3 linked regions of the Homo sapiens genome follow. The protein of the gene in region 3 binds, or shares a complex with, the protein of the main gene of each other region. Links are inferred from orthologs where the notes say so. Each region holds a gene or a part of one and is shown on either strand. Other genes may lie near its edges.

Evidence for each region.
Region 1: the proteins of WDPCP (region 3) and FUZ are in contact, whole or in part, in a cryo-EM structure (PDB 7Q3D), measured with the Homo sapiens proteins. Residues at the interface, in NP_056994.3 of Homo sapiens: Arg55, Ile57, Asn75, Lys78, Leu82, Glu418, Asp419, Arg420, Leu421; in NP_079405.2 of Homo sapiens: His293, Glu372, Glu373, Pro374, Arg379, Gln397, Pro399, Thr400, His401, Gly402, Ser405, Leu406.
Region 2: the proteins of WDPCP (region 3) and INTU are in contact, whole or in part, in a cryo-EM structure (PDB 7Q3E), measured with the Mus musculus proteins. The link is inferred for Homo sapiens from one-to-one orthologs. Residues at the interface, in NP_663400.2 of Mus musculus: Phe3, Cys4, Leu5, Ile24, Leu51, Ser54, Arg55, Asp56, Lys93, Leu385, Ala386, Glu387, Asp388, Tyr389, Ile427, Lys446, Leu447, Gly448, Ile449, Leu450, Thr451, Arg452, Gly453, Leu455, Leu462, Gln463, Ile465, His466, Tyr467, Gln487; in NP_780724.3 of Mus musculus: Val481, Gln484, Val488, Asp491, Ser495, Asp496, Glu498, Ala499, Ala500, Asp501, Ser506, Glu507, Asp508, Arg513, Arg514, Thr517, Ser532, His533, Leu534, Pro535, His574, Tyr593, Glu610, Gly613, Cys614, Ala615, Ser616, Lys617, Ser653, Pro654.

The regions. Positions count from the first base shown.
Region 1 is NC_000019.10:49,810,272-49,818,208, forward strand, and holds the start of FUZ (protein fuzzy homolog), read right to left. Parts: upstream 3,022-7,937; 5' UTR 2,836-3,021; coding exon 2,725-2,835; intron 2,466-2,724; coding exon 2,344-2,465; exon of another isoform or gene 2,238-2,343; coding exon of another isoform or gene 2,176-2,237; intron 2,065-2,175; coding exon 1,980-2,064; intron 1,429-1,979; coding exon 1,360-1,428; intron 1,197-1,359; coding exon 1,092-1,196; exon of another isoform or gene 1-1,091. UniProt on the Homo sapiens protein: Probable planar cell polarity effector involved in cilium biogenesis. May regulate protein and membrane transport to the cilium.
Region 2 is NC_000004.12:127,628,957-127,635,977, reverse strand, and holds the start of INTU (protein inturned), read right to left. Parts: upstream 3,022-7,021; 5' UTR 2,944-3,021; coding exon 2,798-2,943; intron 1-2,797. UniProt on the Homo sapiens protein: Plays a key role in ciliogenesis and embryonic development.
Region 3 is NC_000002.12:63,431,476-63,438,496, forward strand, and holds part of WDPCP (WD repeat-containing and planar cell polarity effector protein fritz homolog), read right to left. Parts: intron 6,533-7,021; exon of another isoform or gene 6,409-6,532; coding exon of another isoform or gene 6,387-6,408; intron 6,080-6,386; coding exon 5,946-6,079; intron 2,462-5,945; coding exon 2,270-2,461; intron 1-2,269. UniProt on the Homo sapiens protein: Probable effector of the planar cell polarity signaling pathway which regulates the septin cytoskeleton in both ciliogenesis and collective cell movements.

The DNA of each region.
Region 1 (7,937 bases), on a different chromosome or scaffold from region 3:
TATGGGAGGCTGAGGCGGGAGGACTGCTTGAGCCCAGGAGTTCGAGACCAGCCCGGGCAACTTAATGGAAACCCATCCCCAACCCTAGTCCATCTCTTAAAAAAAAAAATAGCTGAATGTCAGCCGGGCGCGGTGGCTCATGCCTGTAATCCCAGCACTTTGGGAGGCTGAGGCGGGTGGATCACGAGGTCAGGCGTTCAAGACCAGCCTGGCCAACATAGTGAAACCCTGTCTCTACTAAAAATACAAAAAATTAGCTGGGCCAGGCGTGGTGACCAGCGCTTATAATCCTAGCTACTCGGGAGGTTGAGGCAGGGGAATCGTTTGAACCCAGGAGGCAGAGGTTGCAGTGAGCCAAGATTGCGCCATTGCACTCCAGCCCCTGTGACAGTGTAAGACTCTGTCTCAAAAAAAAAAAAAAAAAAAAAATAGCTGAATGTGGTGGCACAGTGCCTATAGTGTCAGCTACTGGGGAGGCTGAGATGAGAGGATCACTTGAATCCAGGAGTTCAAGGCTGCAGTGAGCTATGACTGAGCCACTGTGCTCTAGCCTGGATGACAGAGCAAGACCCTGTCTCAGAAAAGAAAGAAAGATGGCCCAGGCGCAGTGGCTCACGCCTGTCATCCCAGCACTGTGGGAGGCCAAGGCAGGTGGATCACCTGAGGTAAGAAGTTCGAGACCAGCTTGGCCAACATGGTGAAACCCTGTCTCTACTAAAAATACAAAAAATTAGCCGGGCGTAGTGGTGGGCGCCTGTAATCCCAGCTGCTCGGGAAGCTGAGGCAGGAGAATTACTTGAACCCGGGAGGCGCAGGCTGCAGTGAGCCGAGATGGTGCCATTGTACTCCAGCCTGGGCAACAAGAGTGAAACTACGTCTCAAATAAAAAGAGAGAAAGAAAAGAAAAAAGAAAAGAAAGAGAAAGAAAAGAAAAAAAAAAAAGAAAAAAGATTCTTCTGGGACCAGGTGGGGATAGGACTGGAAGCTGAGAGGATAGGAGGAGGTTGGGACAATGGTCCAGAAGAAAGAGGATGAGGACTGAGCCAGGGCCAGCAGAACAGGTGTAAGAGTTTCCATAGCATCCCCAGTACCTGCAAGAGGGACCCCTCTGGAGGAATCACGCAGTCCACACACTGGGTCAGGTCCCCGATGAGCTCCGAGTCCCCCAGGAAGCTGTCGATGAGGCAATAACTGGCCTAGGAGAGGAAGAAGGGACCAGCCTAGGATTCAAGTGGGCCCAGGGTCAGACAACCAAGAACCTGTGGGACCAGGCTGCCCCAGGGGCTGCTGGGAACTGTAGTTCCCAAATGGCAGTGCCCAGGTATCCTAACTTCCCACCCTCATGTCCTGCAACCTCACCCTCAAGTCCTTCTTCAGTCTCTCCACGTTGCGGATATTGGTCAGTTCTTCAAGTCCCACAAGAAGGACCTAGAAGAATCATATAGGAGAGGATGGGCGAGGGGCTGGGACTTGAACTCCTGGGTCTGAAGGAAGAGGGGGCTGGGACTCCCACTTCTGGGTCTGGGGACTGGGGAGTCAAGATTCCTGGGTTCTGGCCGGGCGCGGAGGCTCATGCCTGTAATTCCAGCACTTTGGGAGGCCAAGGTGGGTGGATCACTTGAGGTCAGGAGTTTGAGACCAGCCTGGCCAATATGGTGAAACCCCGTCTCTACAAAAAATACAAAAATTAGCTGGGCATGGTGGCACGTGCCTGTAATCCCAGCTACTTGGGAAGCTGAGGCACGAGAATCGCTTGAACCTGGGAGGCAGAGGTTGCAGTGAGCCGAGATCAAGCCACTGCACTCCAGCCTGGGCAACAGAGCGAGACTCCGTCTCAAAACAAAACAAACAAACAAACAAAAGATTCCTGGGTTCTGAGGAAGGAAGTGTTGGTGGTCTGCACTCCTAGGTCTGAGGGAAAAGGATGCTGAGATCTCAGATTCCTGGTCTGGGGAGAAAAGAGGACTGGTGAGTCTCACCATGGCTCCAAACACCATTTGGAGTAGTCTCTCCAGCCTCAGCTCAGAGATGCCCACCTCAGATGACAGAACAATGAGGGTGATGCTGTGGAATGGAAGTGAGAAGAATGAGTCAAGGCCTGGGGAATCAGGAAGGGGTATGTTGGAGTCCGCCCATTGATCCTAGAACACCAGATACATCCTCTCTCAGACCAACCTGCCTTTCTTATAGAGAACATCAGGGATCAAAGAGGGTAACTGGCTTGCTAAAGATCCCATAGCCAAATTAACAGCTGCTTTTAGAGAGCTGGAAGGCCTCCGGGGTCATCTTCAACAGGGACTATCACCCAGGCCCTGTCCCTGTCCCACGTTCCCTCCTGGGGACCTGTCATGGAAGCTTTTCCACACCACAGTCGTGTTCTCGGTCCTCGCAGAGCTCAGCTGCACCTCCAGATTCTGCCCAAACATGTGGACTCCATTGAGGGAACCGATGACAGAGAACGGGAGCTAAGGAGGGGTTAGGGACATCAGACAAGAGCACCCCCCCATCCCCTTCCCCCTTAGGACCCAAGTGTGCCAGCTCCCAGCCCCATCCTCTTTCCATATGACCTGGCAGTGCCTCTTTGGGGAACCAGGCTTATTGGTCCATTGCCTCCTCGGTCCTACAAATTCAACACTGAAACTTCCCCAGCCCCTACTGCCTTGAAGACCCAGAGTCAAAACACCGAACCCCCTTCGGTTTAGATACAGGCGTCCAAGGCCCCACCTGCTGACGGGCGGGGGCGCCGCCGCGACTGCTCCTGCAGAATAGGGGGACCCCGCTGGAGGCCGCGAGGCACAGCAGATGCACAGTGCCGCCCGTCCCCTCCTCCCCCATTTAGGACTCCCACCGCGGTCCCTCACGTGGGGACTGTCAGTGCGGGTCTTGGAGCATGGCGGTAATCAGAGTAACTCGGCCTGTGGTCCGGAGCCGCCAGAGGGCGAGATGGGGAGCTGATTGGAAGAGGATTAACTTCCCGCCTTCTTCACCCAACTCAAACAGACCCTCAAACCCTATTCAGGCACCTCCCCCAAACCCATTAGGTTCTCTTCCGCCCTAGCCGGAAGTCACGGTACCCCTAACAAAGATGGCGGCAAATTGAATTTGCAAAGCTTTCTAGTTTCTCCGAGGAGGTAAAGAGAACCAAGAAGCCGGATTGAAGATGATGACTGCGCCAAGGCGTTGCCTAGCCACCATCCTGTAGGCTTTGATGATTTACATTCTAAACGGAAAAAACAGCTGTGCCCGGATCAAAGATTGCGATGGTCCCAAAGCATTGCCTAGCAACCACATTCCCTGTAGGTTTCCAGTATATAGTAGTAAACAATGTGCCCTACTCAAAGATGGCGACCGTGGCGGGGCGTTGCCAAGCAACCACCATTCAGCCTGATATCCATTCCAAGGCTGTAAACAGCTGTGCCCTGCTCAAAGATGGCGGCACGTCGAAGTCCGAGCACCCTCCTTGGGGCGAAATCGAGAAAAACACCATCTCCCCTACAACCTTCGAGGGTGGTTGAGTCCAGCGATCGTTGCCTAGTAACCACTAAAAAAAAGGTTGTTTTTGTTATTAGAAAAAAGAAAACAAGGAAATCCTTTATTTTCCAGAATAATAAAAATAATATCATTTCTGTAATGAATTTATACATGATAGCATACCATGTAAAATGTGAAAAATCCCTTCCCCAATTTTTTTCCTAAAATACAGTTTAACGTAGACTATTCATACGTTTTCACAAAGATGATCAATATACTAACATTTCCACACTTTCTTTTTTGCCATGAAAAAGTATGTCTATTTCATCTTAATAATGTATTTTTATAATCTATTTTATGGATGTGACAAATTGATTTGACCAATTCTGTATTGATGTACATTAGGTTGTTGAACTCCTCCAGACTAGCCAACTAGTGCTGGGACAGCATTTTACTGACTTTTTAAAATGCCCTTATGAATATTTTTATTATTTTACACAGGCAGCATTTACTTGTAATGACAAAAGTATTTATGATTCATTTTTCCCTTCCTCTTCCTTCTTGCAGATCAGCCCATCTTTCTAGCATAATTTTTAATTTTCCTACTTCCTAAAGTACATCTTTTTCTCTTTTTTTTTTTTTTGGGAGAGGGGACAGGGTCTCGTTCTGTCGCCCAAGGTGGAGTGCAGTGGAACCATCTCGGCTAACTGCAACCTCCGCCTCCAGGATTCAAGCGATTCTCCTGCCTCAGCCTCCTGAGTAGCTGGGATTACAGGTGTGCCCCCACCACGTCCAGCTAATTTTTGTAGTTTTTGTGGAGACAGGGTGTCGCCATGTTGCCCAAGCTGGTCTCAAACTCTTTGGCTCAAATGATCCACCCACCTCAGCCTCTCAAAGTGCTGGGACTACAGGCAGGAGCCACCATGCCTGGCCTAGGTACCATTTTAATCTTCCTTCTTGCCTATTGATATTTTTTTTCCTTTCTCTGGATTACTTTTATCTTCCTTACAACTTTATTAAAATGTTAGTTACACAGGCATAAAAGAGGGGGCTGCTCTAGATGAAAAGAAACTTGAGACATAATGTCTAAATATGTGTGTGGTCTTTGTTTGGATCCTGATACAAATAAACCAACTGTAAAAACACATTTTGAGACAATTGGAACGTTTGATTACACACTTACTGTTGGATGATACTAAGAAGTTAATTTTGTTACAGGTAACAATGGCATACTAGTAATGTAAGAAAGTGTTCATAAAATTGGAAAGATGCCTGCCAAGCACACAGGAGTAAAATCATATGATTGTATGGATTTGAAGGCTTCAGCAGGCCAGGCGCGGCGGCTTACGCCTGTAATCCCAGCACTTTGGGAGGCCAAGGTGGGCGGGTCACCTGAGGTCTGGAGTTCGAGACCAGCCTGACCAACATGGAGAAACCCCGGCTCTACTAAAAATACAAAATTAGCTGGGCGTGGTGGCGCATGCCTGTAAACTCAGCTACTCGGGAGGCTGAGGCAGGATAATCGCTTGAACCCAGGAGGTGGAGGCTGCCGTGAGCCGAGACTGTGCCATTGCACTGCAGCCTGGGCAACAAGAACAAAACTCCATCTCAAAAAAAAAAAAAAAAAAAAAGCTTCAGCAAATGAGACTGTCTCAAAAAAAAAAGGGCTTCCGCAGGCTCACTGCCTATAATCCGGGCACTCTAGGAGGCCAAAACGGGTGGATCACCTGAGGTCAGGAGTTTGAGACCAGCCTGGCCAACATGGTAAAACCCTGTCTCTAACAAAAATACAAAAATTTGCCTGCGAGGTGGCACACACCTGTAGTCCCAGCTACTGGGGAGGCAGAGGCAGGAGAATCGGTGGAACCAGGGAGGCAGAGGCTGCAGCGAGCCGACACTGCGCCACTGCACTCCAGTCTGGGCGACAGAGCGAGATTTTGTCAAAAAAAAAATAATAAAATAAAAAAAAATAAAAATAAAAATAAAAGATAAAAGAAAAATAGAAACCCAATAAAAAATAATTTTAAATGATAAAGGTAAAAACCTTTATCATTAGGCTTTCTGTAAGTACTTTTCAATTGGTGATTATTATTATTATTATTACTTTTTTTTTTTTGAGACAGCGCCTCGCTCCGTCCCCCAGGCTGGAGTGCAGTGGCGCGATCTCTGTTCACTGCAAGCTCCGCCTTCCGGGTTCACGCCATTCTCCTGCCTCAGCCTCCGGAGTAGCTGGGACTACAGGCGCCCGCCACCACGCCCCGCTAATTTTTTTTTTTTTTTTTTTGGATTTTCAGTAGAGACGGGGTTTCACCGTGTTAGCAAGGATGGTCTCGATCTCCTGACCTCGTGATCTGCCCGCCTTGGCCTCCCAAAGTGCTGGGATTGCAAGCATGAGCCACTGCGCCCGGCCTGTTTTTTTTGTTTTTTTTGTTTTTTTTTTGAGACAGTCTCGCTCTGTCGCCCAGGCTGGAGTGCAGTGGCGTGATCTCGGCTCACTGCAACCTCTGCCTCCCGGGTTCAAGCGATTCTCCTTGCCTCAGCCTCTCGAGTTGCTGGGATTACAGGTGGGCACCACGACGCCCAGTGATACTGACCTCGTGATGCGCCCGCCTCTACCTCCCAAAGTGCTGGAATTACAGGCATGAGCCATCTCGCCCGGCCGAAGATTATGTTTTAAAATATTTACTGGCCATTCAAAATTTTGTGTGTGTGTTTGTGTGAAACTAGTCAGGTTTCTTTTTATTTATTTATTTTTATTTTTTTTGAGACGGAGTCTAACTCTGCCGCCCAGGCTGGAATGCAGTGGCACAATCTCAGTTGACTGCAACCTCCGCCTCCCGGGTTCAGGAGAATCTCCTGACTCAGCCTCCCAAGTAGCTGGGATTACAGACGCCCACCAGGACGGCTAATTTTTTTATTTTTAGTAGTTAGAAGGAGTTTCACCATGTTGGCCAGGCTGGTCTTGAACCCCTTACCTCGGGTGATCTGCCCGCCTTGGCCTCCCAAAGTGCTGGGATTACAAGCGTGAGCCACGGCGTCCGGCCCTGGTCAGGTTTCTTTCTATTAAAACAAATATAAAGTGGCAGGGCACGATGGCTAACACCTGGGATCGCTTTAGCCGAGGAGTTTGAGACACGCCAGAGCAACACAGTGAGACCCCATCTCTACAAAAAATTTAAAAATTAGCTGGAAGTGGTAGTGCGCGGCTGTGGTCCCAGCTGCTCCACAGGCTGAAGAGTGGCTCCAGTGCGAGTAGAGGCTGCCGTGAGCCAAGATTGGGCCACTGCACTTCAACCTGCACAACAGAAAGAGACCCTGCCTCAAAAAATAAAAATTAAAATTAAAAGATAATAGTAATGAAGTGTTTCTATTTTTCTATATTGTTATTCATCAGTAAGATTTATTTGCGTAGTACATTTCTGTCAACAAACACGCTAGAAAGATTTTCCCAGTTGGCCGTATATTTTTCAACTTGGTTTATACAGTCTTTTGGGAAAAATTAATGAAGACTACGTTTTCTAACTTTGCTGTAGTGCTAAGAAACTCCATGGCAGTCATTAAGATTTTTTCCCTTCAGATAGTTTTCGGGTTTCATTTGTTGCACTTACATTTTTAATCCACCTGGAATGTATTTACGTTCTAAGCCAGTTTCTGGCTCCTCTCCCAGAAAACAACGCTCAGGTGTTGCTTAGCAACCCGCACTTGGTTTGGTGTTCGGCTTCTTTTCGGGGGGGAAAACAACTGCCCTCCCTTCCAAGTTGAGGACGACCTTAAAGCGTCGCCTAGTAACCTCGTTTCCGCCGATGTGATTGGATCCTTCTCGCGTCCCTCCCCTAGTCCCCACGCCCGAAAGAACAGAACCAGAAACTTAATCTAACGGTTACAAAACAAGGGCAGCGGGCCCGGCGCGGTGGCTCACGCCTGTAATCTCAGCACTTTGGGAAGCCAAGGCGGGCGAATCACTTGAGGTCAGGAGTTCGAGAACAGCCTGGCCCACAGGGTGAAACTCTTTCTCTACTAAAAATACAAAAATTAGCGGGGCGTGGTTGCGGGCACCTGTAATCCCAGCTACTCGGGAGGCTGAGGCAGGAGAATCGCTTGAACCCGGGAAGCGGAGGTTGTAGTGAGCCGAGATCGCGCCACTGCACTCCAGCCTGGGCGACAGGGCGAGACTCCCGTTTCGAAAAAACAAACAAACAAAAAACAAAACACAAAAACGAAAACAAGGGCAGCGTACGCGTTGCATAGCAACCAGGTCTCCTGCCCCTCCCTTTGAGACAAGAGGCGGACCTGGACGCCCCGCTCAAAGATGGCGGCTGACTGAGCCGCTTTCAATTTATTTAGCTTTTGACAATAATTCCGTCTAACCCATCAGGCCCCTAGAAGGGCTAACTATGCCCTTTCTGAGTCTTCCACGCGGTGGGGGCGAAGGAGGATGGAGCTAGAACGAAGCCTCAGCGCGTGCC
Region 2 (7,021 bases), on a different chromosome or scaffold from region 3:
ACTATTAATGGGGGCAACAACATGGATGAATCTCAAAGTAATTATGCTGAATAAAAGAAGGCAGACAAAAAAGAACATTCATACTGCACAATTCCATCTTTATGAAACTTTAGAAACTACAAACTCCTATAGAGTGACAAAAAGCAGATAAATGGTTATCAGGAGAGGCATAAATGGACTTAAGTAGGTACATGGGGAGACTCTTAGGCGAGATGGATATGTTCATTTTCTTGACAGACGTATACATGTTAAAACATCAAATTGTACATTAAAAATATGTGCAGTTTTTTGTATATAAATTATCCTTCAATGAAGCTATTTTTAAAGTCCCAGAAAAAAATTTAAAGGACATACCTCCCTTCTCCAGCCAATCCTTGTGTTTTAGGTGGAAGTTCCTTAGCTTTAACAGCTAATATCTCATTTAAAATGATTCCTGTTTCTCTCCATCAGCCAGTTTTAAAACTGATGTAACAACAACAAAAAATTCACTTTGAAAAATTAAAAATCCAAGTCACAACATTGACAAACTCTCTGTAACATGAACTAGGCATATTAGCTGGTAACTTGGCATTGTTGCAGGTGAATGTGTGATTTCTGTTATCTTAATGCTAAAACTAGCTAATGGCTCCCTCAACCCAACCAACCCACCAGTATTATCTCGGAAGCCTCCCAGGGTATGTGCCCATGTGTCAACTTAAGACATACTGCAGCAATATAAACTCTTATTCTCTAACAAACCTAAAACAAACCTATTAAAAGAACTCTACCAGAATTTACCATAATGTAATTTTATCTCCAAGATGATAAACTTTTAAATTCTATATTGACAATCACATACAGCTCAGGTACAAAGCATGTATGAAACAGTAACTTCTAAAAAGAACACGCAGTTAACTAAAACCTTGAAAATTCAGGATACTTTATGTGAGTCAATATGCAGTACAACTTCCTTAGTAAGCTTCACGTAGTCCATGAAATACAATAGGAAATTCATGTCTTTGCTTTAATGAGAAAGACTAAGGTTGGCATTCCTGTGCCTTTGATTAAAGAGTGGTTCTGTACAAGTTGGGAAGGCCACTGTTTGTAATGATGACTGCAGCTTAGGGAAGTAAACATCTACCATAAGGGAAGAACCGAACATAAGCCTTCCTGGTAAGTTCAGCAAATTAACCCTCATGTCCTACAAATCAAGAAGGGACAGACTTAAAATTTGAAACTTGGTAGGACTTGAAATACAGACCAGCAAAACATCTTATGATAGGGATTTTCTATACTTTTATTATTAGGAGGATAAAGACACTAGAACATGTGGCGTGATTAGTGACATGTGAAAAGCTTAATGATCATTTTTTAAAAGCTAAAATATAACATACATACATGTATTTTGAATCATGAAATACTTTTATTCTTTTAAGTGACAAGTTCTCCTATCACAAGGTCCTCAGATTGGTCATTTCCTAGGAAACAAAGTTCACTATTTTAATCCCATCAAAGTCATGGTGGCCCATTAGGTATCAGGCGTCTTGAATTCTCACACTGACAACACTCAGCTGTGCAACTATACATGAATCATAGATTCTTTCTGGGCTAAAAGTATGCGACTCTAAAATGTGGAGAAGCCAAGAGTTTGAGTCTTACACTGTCTATGGCTTCACATACCAAGACCAAATAAGGTTCTATGTAATTCATATTTCCTTCCAGCAGCCTTGTGTAATAATCATGAATTTTAAAATTATTTTTTTAATGCCTACAGCAGATTACAAAAAAATACGATATTTTAAAATTTGTTTAAGTCTTCAAGAATGTATTAAACAGGTTTCCCCACCATACTTTTAAAGGCAATGATAAAAATCTTTTACATACTGATAGGTAAAAACAATTGCCAAATAACAGTTGCTCCTACATACATATAAATGATTTGTAACTGTTGTTCCTAAATACACATAAAATGTCATCCTAAAACTGACCAGGTATGGTTGTCCATTACTGGGTTAGTTGACATTTTGGCACCAAAACTTTTTCACGATTAGTCATTCTCTTCAAGCTACTGCTAGTTGACTTTTCTAAAGTTCTTAATCCATAGCAGTAAGGGGTAGATTTTTCTTAAAAATGAAGTAGCACTGAATACTGTGAATCAAAATAACCTTTTCATGGCATTATTAAGAAAGTGAAACCTTTAGGTATCTGTATTTTTAAAAATTAAATTATGACGTAAAATGGAAAACAAGAAAATCATGGAGATGCATAGGAAAATACAGCAGAAATATCCAGAAGTGCTGAGAGGTTGTCCTTGATGGTGAGACTATGGGTGGGCGTTCCTTCTGTTATATAGCTATTCATTTCCATAACAGAAAAAATCTACATAAATTTAACAACTGCCTTATAAAACGCGTAGGGTGTCTCTCCACTCCAAATACTAAAGAGATTAAGCCACAAAGGTCACACCAAAGAATCAAGACACTGCGATCGAAACAGAGTTTTTTGAACGCTGTTACAGATATATCCTCCTATGGCCTAGACAGAGCCCATGACCAAAAAGAGGAGATTCTCCTCATCTAAGAATCATTGAAAAAACAAAACAAAACAAACAAAAAACAACCTACAGTAGCAAAGAATGGCATCGTCATTTCTGCTCACACCACCATACAATGGAACGTGGTGCAATTAAATCCCACTTATTATAGAACCCCAAATACTCGATTCCAACCACGCCAACACCCTTGCAGTTCCCCCAGCCCACGTGTATATTCTCTGGATTGATGGGATGGGATTAATTGTCCCTCTTTGAAAACCTTACTCATAATCGCTACTCGCTGAGGAATATGAACCCGAGTCGCTGACCCGATCTTCAAAATCATAGTCCTCATCTTCTTCTTGTGAAGAGGGGTCTCCAGGGAGCTCGTCTGAGCTCGGACGCGAATCGCACGAAGCCACAGAGGCCATCGTCAGGAATGCAATAGCTACGAGTGGAGTAATTCAAATCTCGCAGCTATAGCTTGCTAAGGCCGCCATGTTGCCTCTGCTTGGGAAGGGGCAGAGGCCATGTGACCACCAATCCTTAGCTGCAATTGGTGGCAGGTCGCGTTGCCAGGGAGACGGAGAAGCTTCCCAGAAGAAACAGGGAGAACAGAAAGCAGCCAATGGGCTGAAACTTCCAGGAGGGCTTCTCAGTTGGAAGGATAGAAATAGCTAAAACTTCACCGCTTACGCTCTCCGGAACGCAATTCCTTAGAGCAGCATAACCTGTTAAAACAGGCGGAGATGCACTGGGCTTCTCACCTTTTTCTTCCAGTGCTGGATATCCAGTTTGCTCTTTGTCCTGTGTTTCTAATGCCTAACAGCTGTCGGTCAGCCTGGATTTCCTTCGAGGTGAAGGAAACCGCACTTTACCTTTCCTTAGGACCTCATCCGTGCAAGTAATGGACGCTTTTAAGCAACGCGATCTAGGTGTTAATGTAAATACGCTCCATTGTTTTATGGGTTTCATATTGTTTCGCAATTGCAAACATTTTCACGGTTATCCCAAGTGGGTATTGTAGAGTGCCACAAATGAGTGGCAATCCTGTGGAATCAACTTCATGTTCATTTTCTAACTCAAAATTTTATAATCTAATTAAGTGTTCTCATTATTAAAGTTGGAAGTGTAAACAGGTAAAATCTACCTGTTATTTATGAATACCTATATCAAGTATTTTTTAAGTACAAAAATAACAGCTAGCATTGATTGAGAGTCAGCCTTGGCTCTGCTCACTTTATTCATATACAATGCTGAGCATTCACATACTATGAAGTAAATATTTTCTCTATATTAAATAAGGAAACTAAGCTTTAGAGAAGTTATGCATCTTACTAATGGTTACATGGCTAGCAGTCAACAAAGTCAACCAAGAAATGAACCTAAGTCAATAACCATTACATGAAATTTCCTCCCTCAGAACCCAGTAATTCAACTATTAGATATCTACTCTGAGAAAGGATGCAAATTTATAAAATTTGTAAAAGTGAAAAGCTGAAAGCAATCTTAAAATGTCAAATAATGGGGGAAAAGTTAAATATATATAAAATATGATGATTATGATTTTAACTAGAATGTGTTCAAAGAGTAAAGCATGGGGGAAATGTTCATGTTGCAGCGTGTAAAAAAAGGATATAATGTTATTTTATGATCTAAAAGGCTGGGTGCTGGGGATTCTCTAATGGGCAATTATAACATAGTGATAAGTATTACAATAAATACAAGGTTCTAATGGAATATCCAGAAAAAACCAAAGTAGTATACGTGGGGCCATGACAAATTTCTTAGAGGAAGTATTAATTTATATTGTTATTATGGCATGGTTCCAACAGAGAAAGAGTAATGGGAGATGAGTCATCACATGGCCGGTATGGGTATATGCATGGAGAACTCAAAGGAACCTGAATTGTAGCTGTTGCAGGGGCAGAAAAACTCTACCTCCATCTTCTTAGGGTCCCAGCTGGGCCTGAGAATTAAACTTACCTAAAATAGATTAACAAAAGAAAAGCAACTGGAACTTGTTATACAGATGTTGAGGCCCTGCTCCACATCAACAGGATCAGAATCTCCAGTGGAGGGGCCTGGAAATCTCTATTTCAAACAAGTGCCCCCTGTGATTCAGCAAACTTGGGGAACTGCCCTAAATTTTCTCTCAGTTCTGTGCTTCATCTATACAGGCCAACTGGCCATTCCCTGAATAGGCTGGAACCCACTCCCACCTCGCAAATTTGAGCCTGGCAGACAGACCTCTCTCCTTGCTCTAGAATCCAAGTTTTACATGGCAGGGGAGCCCTCATAAAGAAATGAAGACCCAAAGAAGCAGTTAGAGTCAGTTAACTTATATACTGGATTGGACAAAGAATAGTTAGTTGTGAAGAAGCAACTAAACTAAATTGGGAAGCTTAAAAGATAAGTTATTTTAACAAGGTCTGTACAGAATTCTCTTGGTTTCACTTCTATGCCCTTGAGAATAAGAATGTTACATTTTTCTAGTATAGGGAGGGTGTCTTTCACATGGGAGCTTCATCTGTTGCTTTTAAGAAGCAGCACAAAGGCACTTGCTGTTTTTCAAGTGTATTAAACTTAAATGGCCAGGATAGTATATTTTACCTTCCTCACAGCCAAACAAGCTGCAGTATGCAGCTTATACTTTTAAGCTGAAGTTTAGTTGTATTTACATTAACTGTACATTACATGTACAAATATACATTAAACTATGTACATTTGAATTTGTATATTACATGTACAAATGTACATTAAACTATATACATTTGAATTTCCTAGGTTTTATGGTTTTGTTTTAATTTCTAAATGTGTTTTTATAGTGTTATAACAGCGATTACATTTTGTAATTTATTTGTATTAATTCATAAAATTGTTTTCATCTTATATAGGAGCTATAAAGCACAGATTATACCTCATTTATTTAAAATTATAATTAAAAAACTTAAGTCATCCATGGAAATCCACAATAGTTTTTCCTTAAAAGAGGTCTATATGTTACTAAAGTTGAAGAACAGGAGGAGGAGTTTGTAAAGGGGTAATGGGCAAAAGGAGTGTCAGAGGCATTTGAACCAGAGCGACTCCATCTTGAATAGGGGCTGGGTAAAATAAGGCTGAGACCTACTGGGCTGCTACTCAGGAGGTTAGGCATTCTTAGTCACAGGACAAGATAGGAGGTCGGCACAAGATACAGGTCACAAAGACCTTGCTGATAAAACAGGCTGCGGTAAAGAAGCCAGCCAAAACTTACCAAAACCAAGATGGCTACAAAAGTGACCTCTGGTCATCCTCACTGCTCACTATACGCGAATCATAATTAGAGTACAGTGAGCAGTGAGGATAATGAGCATTAGTTGCTAAAAGACACTCCCATCAGCATCATGACAGTTTACAAACGCCATGGCAATGTCAGGAAGTTATCTAATATATTCTAAAAAAGGGAAGACCCCTCAGTTCTGGGTACTACTCCCCCTTTCCCAGAAAACTCATGAATAATCCACCCCTTGTTTAGCATATAATCAAGAAATAACTATAAGTATACTCAGTCAAGCAGCCCATGCCGCTGCTTTGCCTATGGAGTAGCCCTTCTTTTTTCCTTTACTTTCTTAATAAACTTGCGTTCAATTTACTCTATGAACTTGCCCCGAATTCTTTCTTGGGTAAGGTCCAAGAACTCTCTTGGGGTCTGGATTGGGACCCCTTTCTGGTAACAGGAGGTCCTTGAGGTGGTAGGAGGGGATAGCATCCAAGGCACAGAAGGAGGGATATGACCTCCCTGGACACCTCTTCCCTAAAACTAGAAGAAAGAGCCAAAGAAGGGTGCTGGTGTGGATGGTGACTTGCCAGTTTCAGGCAGGAAGCTGAGGCAGTCTCCATGTGACAGTGTTTATCGTCTGGTAAGTAGGCTGCAACCTTGCCAGCTGAACGTGATGGAGGAAGTAATGGGGTCGGAAGTTTGAAGAAAGTGGAGACAGGAAGGAAGGGAAACAAATATTTCCATTAGCATTGAGATCCAACAAAAAATGTATTACTTTTAAAATCAGAGAAACAATATTATTTTAAAAAGCTGGAGTCCCTATACTCATTATTTTGAGTTTCATGGTAAAATATATATGCTTACTTTCACCACAATCTTAAACATTAGAAATGATTTAAGATTCCATTTCAAAATAAAAAGTGCTTTAGTTACCTCTTTAATAAGTTAACCTTTCCTTGTTTTAAAAGCAACTTATTGGAAGTAAAAAATAAAATAAGAAATTAAAAAAGGACATTTACAAATTTTAGGAAAATATCACATTTTCTTCCTACAAATTTTTCATCAATTTTTTTTTGTAAGCATCTAGTAGTTTCATACCCTGCCTCATAAACCTTGCATGGCACCTCCTTAAATAGAGAACAAAGTCCAAACTGTGTAGCTTCTTTTAAATTTTTTTCTCCAATTCTACAAACAATTGAACACCAATTCAGAATTAAATGGTTTATTCCATGTTACATCGTAAGTTA
Region 3 (7,021 bases):
TAGTTTGAATTTTAGGGTTTAAGAGCATATTGTATCTTTATTCTGATGATTAGTCCAAGAAGTCCCTTGGCTGCTACTGAAAAAAAAAAAAAATTAAAGGAATATGCCTGAATACTACTTTAATAGACTGGTACTTTTGGTTCACGATATTCTAAAAAAAATTCTATACTTCGTATTTAAAGATTATGTCTTCACACACACACACACACAAGAAAAACAATTAATGCCCTAGAAATTTCTTCTACAAGATTATACTTTTTGCATAATGACTTTCACATGAAGCTCTAAAAAAGAAATCTTTACAAATTTTTCCAGTTGCTAGAATAACTAAAAGGGCCAATTCCTAAAACAAAAGCTCTTGAGAAAAAAATGAATTATATATCTTAATAAGATCAAAAGGGAGGAAATTATACAATCAGTGGTGAATAAAGAATCATGTAGAAATTTGCATACAACTTTATGAAAAAATATTCAAATGCATAAAATGAATAATTTTCTATAAACACCAATTGTGGAAAAAAAAGGAAAAAAACAACCCTTTAAAAATGGAATCAGTAATGAAAAAAATCTACCCTCCTTAAAAGACGTCACACCCAGGAAGTTTTACAGGTAAGTTTTATCAAACTTTCAAGTATCAATTCCTTTTGGTACTGTTACAGAGAGGAGAAAAGGAAAAAGCTAGCCAAATCGTTCCACAGAGCTAATAATATCAACTCTAGAAAGGTGAGATAAGAAAGGATAATTTTAAAAAGTAAAATTGTGTGCCAAGCTCATATTTAAGCACATTGGGAAGCCTCTTCAATCTTCCCTACTTAACATCTCTCTAAGTAGAATCGATCACCACTTTCTGTTGGGTCCCACTATAGCTTACACATACTCTACCCACAGCACCATTAACACTTTAATGCACTTACACATTTTCATATTTGTCTCTTATTGGCAGACACTAAGATCCTTGAAGGCAGGGACAGTTTCTTATTCATATCCCCTGGTATGAAATACAGTGTTTTTCATACCAGGGGATATGTAGTTGCTAAATGACATGGCTATTTCAAGTAGAAATACCATTAATGTGCACATGCAGAGGTAGGAAATAATGAGTCAGCAAGTAAATTCATTTGACTAAGACATGGTTTATGTAAGGAAACAACACTGGAAAGGCAGGCCAAGGGCAATCAGGGTGGGTTTTTTAGTGCTGAGGCTGAGTTTGGTTTTAGCATCTACAGAAGACTTTTAAGCAGGCAATGTCTAAATCAGATCTGTGCTTCAGGATCCATAGAAGCACTTTTTAGACCTGTTAGAGACCTCGAGGTGACCTAACTGAATTAAATCAATCGTTTTAAAAATAAGAAAACTAAAGTCAGATAGGGTAGGTGATCTACTCAAAGGCACAGAACACAGAATTAGCTAGAAGCAGGCAGAAGCTTAGAGTATTCATCTTATCTCGAATACTAATTCTGGGAAATACTCCTTAAAGTCTAAAAGATAACTGATTTAGAGGCAAATATAGGAACATACTATTTTACCTACATAAGAAAGTGGGGGAGAGGGAGCTTTTTTTACAGCTATAATACAACAAAACAGAGAATTCTGTAACCAAAGTACTAGTACAAACTGAAAATACACATAGGTTCACATATATGAATGGATGATCAAACCATTATCATGAATTGATAGAGGATACTGTCCTCACCTCATAATCTATAGCTCTCCTTAAATATCCTTGCGCCAAATGCGGTCTGGCACGACAGGGCCTTACACAATATAGGCATTTAACTAATGTTTGTTAATTGACTGAAGTCTGAAGAGAGTAATTGGTAATAAAAGCTTTCACAGGCATGATATCATGAGTAAACAGTAATAATAGAACTAATAATGATAATAACAAGAGTCATAACAGTGAACAGTGATTCAGGGCTTACTATACATTGATATTGCTCTAAATGCATGTATTAACTCATTTATCATCATGAACTGTATTTTTCAAATAATGAAACTATAGCACATACAAGTTAGTAACTTGGTCAAGGACAGGAAGCTACATAGTGGCAGAGCTAGCATTTGAACCTGGAAGCCTGGACTCTTAATTACTACACTATTCTAGCCAGCCCTGGAATTGTCTGGGTATCTTCTAGATATGATACTTTTTGAATATTTGAAAAACATAAATTATAGGTAAAAAATATTCACATTTATTTCAGAATAGAAAATCTAATAATTCTATTTTATTTACACTTTATTAAAATGTACATATTTGTTTTAGATTTACCTCTAGTCTTCCTTGAGCATAACCCAGGAGGAGTAGATTGGCTCTGTCCTTCTCAGAAGAAATGGGGGCCCAAGGCCAAGCATCATCGTTGACCAGTGGCCACCAGCAAACAACTCTATCATGAACACAGTTGATAGCTAGATGTCGCTCTGTTGTCTTGTTTATTGGGCCGGGTATTTCATAATAGAAAATCTAACAATTTTAAAAAAGCATACATGAAACATTTCTTTTAAAAGATGCAAAATCCTCAAGTATTACAAAAATTAAAGCATCTGGAAATGTAGTTACATGCAAGTAAATATGCATGTTAAACATGTGCGTAAGAAGGTGTCAGAATTTACCAAATTCTTCTGACACATATATAAAAAAGACATATGTTCAAAATTCTCCCCATTTTTAGCAAAGGAAGGAAAAGGAGAAATGTGAGCTAGGAAGAAATTGAATGTAGCAATTCCAATCAATACCAAAATGTACAGTCATGGTTGCCTGACAGCATCGACCTACACATATGATTTAGGACCAGCTGTATAAAATGACAAGTTCAGTACTGCTGACCAAGAGAGTCTCACTACTGTTTAAGACATAACGTGTTAACAATGACTGACAACAAAAAAAGGAAAAACAACTTGAGGCAAATATCTCTTTAAAGAATATATGCGACGTATACACATATATTCTGCATAAAAGGGATAAGCCACAGCATCATGCATAAAAGTTTATGCAGCTTCTGAGAATTATGCTTCTCTTTCTTAGGCAGGATTTGTAGAATTTATTATTCAAACTATGTTATTTTGGAACATGGTTATTTGAAAACATAAGCACGGCACCATCTGTGTGACACATGCCAAGGAAATATAGATTGCACCGTATTTCTGCTTAAGGAATTAATGGAAGGTTGATAGCTTGGAAGAAAAAAAAAACTATCTTGCCATTGCTGGTCAGCAATAATCGAACCACTTTCTGGGGATTAAGCGCATGGCTAAGCCTACTGGACCAGACACTAGCAAAGGGCAGGGGGTCTTCTTATCAGAGAAATGCTTCTGGAGCCAGTCTCACTACATGACAGATTGCTTTCATATTCCTGTCTGCAAGGCAACAAAGGATGGCAGTAATGCGATAATGCCAGAGTGCAACGGGTGTTAAGAACCCGTTGCATTTATGTATTGTATTTAGTAAATAATCAGGCTCATCCAAATTGTGATCTCACCACTCAACCAAGGCCATTAAAACCAAGGTTAATGCTTTAATAATCCTCTGCTATTTTTTTTCAATATGGTCAAAAGGAACCCTTTTCTATTTGCATGGCCATAATATTATTGACCTCTTCATCCTCTGAATGCACATCAAAAGGAACTGAAATCAAAGTAATTACCAGTGTTGTTCTCTCATGGTAAACATTTAACTCCTCACAGTGTCCCTTCACTGTTAAATAAATTGAATTGGATTTTTTTCAGATGTAGACAGGAAAACTTGTTAAAGGTCAATAGTTTAAGGATGTTTACTCTGCAATTTTCTTTGCCAAAATTATGTCAATCTGAAAGAATTAAACTATGGTACAGCTGTAAAGAAAAGCAAAAGTACAATACTCTATACCACTTCCTTGTTTTAAAATCCAAATGGGCAATGACAGACAACACAGATGTACTTTATGCTATTAAGTGTAATTTCTTATATTTAAGCTCTCAATATCATTAAGTCTTCTTATTTGAGAGAAATACCACGATGAAATTGCTAAGTACTTAAAAATACACATACATTATTTCAATGTCTGATTTGCTGCATAAGTGTGTTACCTATGAATTTCTAGATGAGGAAATTGAGTCACAATGAGTGACTGACATTTTCAGTTGTCACATAATGCAAATCACTTACGTTATGAAATGTTAGGAAATTTCATGTTTCCTATGAGTTTAATATTATCAGTATTCTGTCATGATGACCAAGAGGGAATGTAAAATAAACAAATTTCTTAAAATATCCTTCCAATGGACAAATAGCAGATTTGACTAAGTATTAAAAATATACATTTTAAATATTAAACCAGGAAATGAAATTAATGAGTTTTCCGAAGGGAAACAGATTACTTCTCTAATGTATAGGAATGACATGGAGTGCCAATGTTCCTATTTTCCTAAATCCAAAGGCATATTCGAATAAGCAAGTAAGTAATTCCCTTACTTAAGGTTTAAGGACCCAAACGCTAGATGTCTTTTCCTCATCTTTTCATAAGAAAAGATGACATCTTGACAGTTTCTCTCTGTTCTCAGGTAGCTACTACTCTTCAGTTGAGAAGATTTTATCAAGCTATCACACCTAAGATAAAGAAACTACTCATCCAGAATTTTATATATACTTACTTTAAATGGTTTGAGTTAATGCACACTGGTGCATTTTAAAGACCGATCAATTTTAGTAAATAAACAGTATTTCAAGTAAATCTGAAGTTAGCCATTCTAGAACTAACATCCCTTTAAGAATGCTAATACCATTTTTGTTTTGGCTAACCAAATATAATAAGTAGCACTAATTTCCAGTTTTAAAAAATCTATATTAAGGTTTTATAGAAGTTTCACAAAGCTGGCAAACGAAACTAGATGGTAGTTTATCACCACAATGAAAAACTCATTTATTTTATTCCACATTAAAAATCTTTTTTTAAGAATAAATGTTCCTACTAAATAAAACTAAATCCTCCCATGCTACCACCACCTCATTCATAAGTAATAATCCCAAAGGGCAAAAGGTTAGGTTAAATACTACTTTGCCAAAAACACACACACATTTCAAGCTACAGAGCTAGCTTCTCAAACTCTTTGCTCTTGCTACAGATGCTCTAGGTATGGCATAAGTGTGCATCTTTTTTAAGGAAGCTGTATATCAGCTCTGTTCCCAGTGAACAGTGAACTGTCTCAAATCCACATCATAGAGGTTGGATCAATCTTGCAAACACAAGTCACTGTTGAAAAGAGGCCTTGAACTGAAACAGCCTGGAAAATGTATTACTCATCCTAGCAGAGAATATGCCTTCCCAGCAGTTAAAATGTAATGTGGCAAAACTCAAATTAAACACATCACTTAAAATAAAAATTCTGCCTTAATAGATGTAAAGCTCCTGATACAGGAAGGAAACAAATTACCTGGAATTAGTGAAGGGTGAGATACTAACACATGAAGATTTCTTTTTGCATTTTGTCCAGTTATAGCTGGAGGGGGAGGGTTCTTCCCCCTCCTTGTTTATTACACTTTTCTATTAACCTTTCAAAGTGCCTTCATCTTTCTTTTCTTGTGAAGTGGAAAGTATCCTACCCTAGAAAGCTATCCTACCCTAGAAAGATGATATGGGGTCTTAGGGGAAAATGAGAATGGTATATATACTACCACTGGCACGAAAACCATTTTCAAAAGTGTAACTTGCCTCTATTATCTGTCTTTGATGTCTATAAATACTATATAAATTGCTCCAAACGTGCCATTGTTAGACAACCCCCCATAGTGAGAGTATAAAAGAAAACTTAGGATGGCCACTGTTTACAGTTAATTAAGCTTAATCCTGTAATATTTCCAGTTTTTCTGAAATCCAGAAATGTTGAAGAATAATGAGCAGAATACCAACTTATGTGATACTCTCATATACCTTAATAATTAATAATATGACTATATAAATCAAAATCTCTACCTTATAATCCAAGGCTGAGAGTTTTTCCAGTCTTTTGTTTACATCAGAAGACTCCATCTTCTTGGTAAACTGAATAAAACATAGTTTGTTTTGTGCCAAAAATGATAAGATGATAAAACTGTCTGTGAGAAGAGCTAAAAAACATAATTAGATATTACCAAGTTAGAATAAAATAATGAATAGATTTTTCCACTGATATGTTACAAAAAGCTATTTTCAAACATACATATTAACTGAAATCACTAAAGTCTCTTGAATATCATTATAGCATTTTATAAAAATATTAAAGATATTAGGAATAAACAATAATTGTCAATCTAATCATATGTGATTTTTTTTCCTGTGACTATTTCAATATACACTGATATTTGGGGACCACCAATGGATGAGATGTATTTAGAAACAGGGCTATAAAGGTATTTTTAAAAAACTATTTCGCACCTGAATGTAGAGACGAAAACATTCCATTTTATTTGTGCTAAGAGTTTAATCCTATGTTTACATGATAGAAACCATCCGAGGATAAAGTGGATTTATTAGGGGATACTGATCAGTGTTCTCTACCAGTCTATTTATTTAAAAAATTTTCATCAGTGAATCTTCTTTTAGGGGTATACAAGCTGGATGAAATAAAGCATATTATGACCAATATGTACATTACATAAATTAATATCTAATAATGAAAATTAGCACAATATTTCTACAGCTTTGTCACCAAAGCACACAAGTAGGTAAATAACTAATATTTGTGGATTATATAAAGGGCTATTAATGTTACATAAAATTATTGATAAAAACATGTTACAGGAATTTGAGAAATGTTTTGCATTGTTCCTAGCATAAAGAAATTATTAAATGTTTTATACATTTTCCTTTACTTTCACACCCCTGACCATACAAACAGTGACCAACAGTGGATCTACACAATTACAAGAGAATCTGGAGAACTGCCAAGAAATCACATTGTTACCATGTTCCCATGAGAGTGTATTATTTTGGGTACAAATAAAAGAAATACATGAAAAAGGATAACTCAGAGACACGAATTGTGCTGAAAGTTTCCTTTTAATTCTCAT